Regions from separate parts of the Homo sapiens genome. Here region 2 is linked to region 1. Evidence: fine-mapped expression QTL. Tissue or cell type: spinal cord. Region 1 holds a variant in brackets; the other region holds the start of a gene. All regions are shown on one strand. Distances are from middle to middle.

Region 1 (2,773 bases):
TTACCATTCAATTAGGTAGTTGTGGTATCTTGAAGTTTTAATTTGCAATTCCATAATCATAACATAAGATTGATTGAGCGTATTTTCATATGTTTGTTTACCATTTGCAAATCATCTTCAGTGAGATGTTGATTTTAGTATTTACCCATTTTTATTGTGAAGGTTTAAGAATTTGTATATTTTGTGTACCAGTCTGTTATCGGATGTGTCTTTGCAAATATTTTCTCCCAATCTGTAGCATGTCTTCTCAATCTCATGACAGTGGTTTTTGCAGAGAAATTTTTAATTATAATTAAGTCCAACTCATCAATTTTTCCTTTCACTTATTATCCTTTGTTATTGTAACTAAAATGTCTTCACCAAACTCAGCCTCTTAGATGTCCTCCATAGAGATCATCTAGGAGTTTTATAGTTGTGCATATTGCATTTAAATTTGTGATTCAAGCTGAATTTTTTTTGAATTACATAAGGTCTGTGACTAGATTTGTCTTCCTTCCTTACTTCCTTCCTCCCTCCTTCCCTCCCTCCCTCTGTTGCTCTCTCTCTTTCTTTCCTTTCTTTCTCTTTTTTAAATATGGATATCCAGTGCTTCAGCACCATTTGTTGACAAGAATATCCTTTCTTCATTTAATTAGCTTTGCTTTTTTTTTTTGTCAGAGATCAGTTAACTCTAATGGTATGGGTCTGTTTCTGGGCCCTCTACTCTGTTCCATCACTCTTTTTTTGTCTTTCCTTTCTCCAGCACCATACTGTCTTGACTACTGCAGCTTTAAAGTACATATTGAAGTCAGATAGCTCAATATGCCTGTCTTCTTCTCCTTCAATATTCTGTCAGATCATCTAAATCTTTTGCTTTGCCATATAAACTTTAGAATCCGTTTGTCTATATCTAAAAAGTAAGCTGGGATTTTCAATTGTGTGATATTTATTTTTATGAATTTTTTTGTGGAATGTACATAACTGGAAGTGACTTTAAATGTTGCCAGTGAACTAAATTACTGGAACAATACACTCAATCATAATCTTAACTACCACTCTAGCAGATGTAGGTAGGCACGTGTGTGTGTGTGTGTGTGTGTGTGTGTGTGTGTGTGTGTGTACATAGTTTAAACTTGGAAATTATAGCTTAGAAAAACATCTAGTGCAAAAGCCCAATACACAAAATAATCAAAAGTGTCACCATTCTGATTAAAGCAGGGGTGACAGTGAGTCCCAGGTATGGCTTCCCTCAGTCTCTCTGACATCCAGTAAGGAAAAAGTGAAAAATTCAGGATTTCTACAGAGTGCTGGACTAAATGATGTCTCATTTTTCCCTCAAATTTATAATTTTTGATGTGTGGCTGGTTATTTTTACTCCACATTTTCTTCACACCTAATGCATTAGAAACAATGTCAGATTTTTTAAGAGCCATATTTATAATAGTTGCCTTAACATCAGTTTTGGGGAAAGATCCTTTAAATTCCTGAGTTTTTCTGGCCTTGAGTCATAATCAGTGATGTAGTGATTAGTGCTTAACAAAAGGCACTGTGTTTGTAGCATTCTCTGGTTTCTGTGTTGTAAAATACTCCCAC[A/C]GTGTCTGATCTGCAGCTACAAACAAGACATCACAGCTGAATTTAAGAAGACATGTGGGCAGCCAGCTCTTATAAACCAGTATAAACCAGCAAAACTAAATTCTTAGCTTTGGCATAAATCTAAATAGAGTCAATGATTAACAATGTTTTCTTCCCCAAACCCCTCTATGGTTGAATTAAAATACTGATTAGTTCATTAATTTCTTCAACAAACTTTTGCACTGGAAATAAAGAGAACCTTATTTTCTAAGAATCAACTTATTACCATATGCAAAGCACTATGCTTCCATGAGAAAGTTTAAAAATATTATATCAGTCATTTTTAAAGCTTTTTTTTTCTCTTTTGAGGATTACACCAATGTTAGTAGCGTTTTCAAAATAGCAAAACATAAGAAGTAAATACAGTGTCTTCAGGTTCAGAACACAGGGTTCACCACTGATACAATTCTGGTTGCTAGTCACATGATCACTCAAGTTCCTTGGATAGTTAAAAAAAATCAGGATGCAAAGCGCTCTATCTATGCTCGTAAACTCATTTGCTTCAACTCTCTACCTCTCTGCTCCAACAGATGTGTTTTAAATCCATTTCATAACTAATTTCTCCAAAAACTTTGTTTATCCCTTGAATTATTTCATTTCCCCTAGCTTAGGTGTTTGGAATAATTGCAAGCTTTTTCAGATTTCCAAGTGCTTATATTCCTTTCCCGGAGCAAAAGACACGGAGTCAATCTGCTGCCTGAATTAGACAAAGGCGAAGGGGGAAATAATAAATACTACCTCAAAAGTATTATACCACTATGATAAAAGAAGGGAACTTAACTCTGTCTAGTAGGGCTCCCAGAAAGCATTCTAAAGAAGAAAAGTCTGGCACTACATAGAAATTAGGGATGTGGACAATAGATGCGTAAAAGGATATTTTAAGCAAAGGTATGAATATATGAGTAGGTTGATCTAATGCTGCCAAAGGGGAGAGATTATGATTATGATTGTTACAAGATGTTAGAGAATTAGGGAGAAGATGATAATAGCCTTGCACAATATGTTTAGGATGTGTCACTGGGACCGTAGAAGCTGATCTTTAATAGCTTTAAGGAGTCTGTGGAGGATAGAAAAGAAAACAACAGGAGTCAGGAAGCCACTACCTTGGTCTAGGTGAATATAGTGTGAGTCAAACAAGAACAGCTATAAGAAATCAATTTAT
Region 2 (2,773 bases), 230 kb after region 1:
AGGATAACTTCTATCATTTAATAATTGCTCACTATGAGAAGTATTGTTCAGTCGTTTTCCACACTGAATTCTTTCTCTGTACACACTCAGAACACACTGCCAATTGATAAAAGGAACATAGCTTCAAAAGAAAATTCTTCTAAGTAAAGAAAAGCTCTCTGTTAAGCATGCAAGAGGTTAAACATTGCTGAAATAGTGAGACATTTTCTCAGCCCACACTTCCCAGTTCCATTCAATTACCAACAGCACAAGCGACTATAATACAAGCGAATACTGTATTATTAAATCAGAACTTCCCATTTACATCCACCTCTAACCTGAGGGGGTTGCAAGGGGATGACATTTGCTAGTCAACAGCAGAACAAACAGCCCCCAACTTGGAAATACACATGACCTTGGGGTGTGGAATGCTCAGAGACTGAGTTTCACAAGTTTTATTTGGATCTACTGCATAACAACACATCTAAATGGACCCAGCATGATGTAAATGTTTCTATACCTACCTCCTCCCTTCCAAAAAATGTTAAGAGAGCTCTGCACTTTGAAGTCTATGCTTTAGATATAGGAATAATATTGATGATTAACCAGAGACTAGTCCATTCAAATAATTATTTGATTATATTTGTTCTAAACAACTTGTTGGTTGATTTATTTAACATCATTTGCTAATATATTTGGGGGGTTTCCTGGAATGGTTCCTATCCTTTGAACCCTGCTGAAAGTATTGCTCTAAAATATTTATATTTATAAAGCAAGATATAACATAATGACATCAACTTCACAAAAAGCAAAGCTCTCAACTTCCCCTCTAGAATTTAGTGCATAATCACTAACAGATTGTCTTGTAATAATAATAATAATAATAATAATAATAATAGTAATTATTAAAATATTTTTGTAATCATTGCCAAAAGTCCAGTTTCAAATTATAAAAATAAGCATAACTTGTTTTTAAATTTTTGTATGGCAGTCTGTATTTCTCCCCCACTTGTAATCATTTATAACAATATTATTTTTCTTACCTTATTTTAACAGTCACAAAAGTCCCCCAGAAAGATTCCTAAACGCTGTGGAAATATAAATCACAATAAAAAAAAAAAACTCTCAAAAGATCGTCTTAGCTGGGGAAAAAAAAATAGTTTGGTCTAAAACTATAGAAATCTCCAAAGTCACGCCTGAATGAGCGCCCAGGTGGCAAACAGAGGACTCTCTCCCACGTCCGATACCACACTCCTTTGTCAAGTTGATATGGGTCCTGTTGGTGAAGCGGGTCCCACAGGGCACAGAGGGTGCAAGAGGGCGTTGCCTTCAGGTGCTGGAGCAACTGGTCCGCTCGCGTCTCAGGTTCAGCACCGACAGCACAGTGGACAGTACCAGCTCCTTTCACCTCCAGTTTGTCTCAGTCACTGAACCAGGCTGATTCTCGCTCCTCCTCCCTAGGCAGGAGCTGCTGCCACTCAACCCGGGGGTGCCCCGCCCCCACCATCTGACGTAACTATTTTGCATATCAACTCGCCGAGAGGTGAGGGGCCGCCCCCTTGACTGGGCTTCTGCTAGAGTCAGCTGCGGCAATCGGGGCAACAAAATTCAGGCTTAACGTCAGCGTGGGCATCTTTGGACTTCAGGATGTATTCTCAACCAGTCCAGTAGAAACTAAACGCTTTGACGGTGCTGGAGCCTTTGCCTTCGCGGGGACTGCCGTTTCTGCGCACTCTAAGATCGCTGCGGGCACAGCTCTGGAAGGAAGACGGGGCGGAGAGAGGGGGCAGTGGAGCACGGAGAGGACCGAGTGGGAGGCGGGTGGGGAGGAGACGGAGAAATAGAATGAATCTATTCAACCATTCTTGAAAACATCTCCAATCCTTTTCATCTTCCTGCCCAAACTTTGCTGCCTCTCCCTGCCATTTGGTTATTTGAACGGATCCGTATTTGGTGTTCCTACTCCCTTCCCTCGGTTCACGGAGCCTCTGGAGGGAGTCGCTGCTGCAGAAACTTGCCTGGAAGAAAAAAAAAAAAATTCTGAGCACTGAGAGAAAACGTGAAAGCTTGCAGCGCTAACCATCATTTCTAAACAGAATCTTAAGGAAAAAAAATACGAGTGCTCCATAGTATATATTATACTTCATATGCGTTCCTATAAAACCTACAGAACCTTCCTTATTCATTCTCATGATTTAAACAAATCCTCAAACTGTATAGACTTGGAGATTCCAGAGGGAAAAAAATTAAATAATAAAAAGTGAAAGTTATCAGCTTCAACTTCCACTGCCAAAATTATGAAGGTTATGCAATATTTATTATGTCTACTATATCAATATTTCTATGAAAGATGGGCTATGCTGGAAGCTTTACATAGCCTTTAGCAATTCTCTCAGTATTTGTGATATTTCTTGTCCCAGTGAAGCTCTAGCCTCCTTGAAGGCAAGAGAAAGGGGGCCTGTCATGCCAAATTCCACAGACTGCTTAAACTTGTAAACAAACACTTTCAGTGAACTGAAGCAATCAATCATCCAGAAGGGTGATTATTCACATTCCATGCACATGTCCCACCTACAGCTATCATGACTTACTTGGACAGAGAAGTGGGTATCTAAAACTAAGCTTAAATTTTCTTAAGTTGGATAAAGCATGTTTAATAAAAAAGGTTGTTTATTCAAATAATGTCATAGCATTTCACACATTGCTTTCCATCAGAATGCATACACACTGATATGTGTCATCATATGCCAGGAGTCTGATATCATCTAGCACTGGATCCACTCACAAGCATTTT

Direction of the effects. Positions count from the first base shown, and alleles are read on the strand shown. Sizes are in standard deviations (SD) of each study's normalised expression.
With allele A in place of C in region 1, the expression in spinal cord of the gene that starts at base 1,408 in region 2 is higher (large effect, 0.77 SD a copy in GTEx).

The links. PIP is the estimated chance that this variant, and not a neighbour inherited with it, causes the effect.
Region 2: it holds the start of FSTL5, and the variant in region 1 is fine-mapped to the expression of FSTL5 in spinal cord (GTEx, PIP 0.98).

Annotation. Positions count from the first base shown.
Region 1 is chr4:161,928,604-161,931,376 of GRCh38, forward strand. All of the region lies in intron 3 of FSTL5 (follistatin like 5), which reads right to left. Among named protein-coding and RNA genes, the nearest start is that of FSTL5-AS1, 93 kb to the right of the region's middle. The variant A/C (reference allele first, on the strand shown) is at 1,573.
Region 2 is chr4:162,162,593-162,165,365 of GRCh38, forward strand. It overlaps FSTL5 (follistatin like 5), which reads right to left and starts at 1,408. Exons shown (of 16, transcript NM_020116.5): 1 at 1,023-1,408. RefSeq lists an enhancer at 1,562-1,671.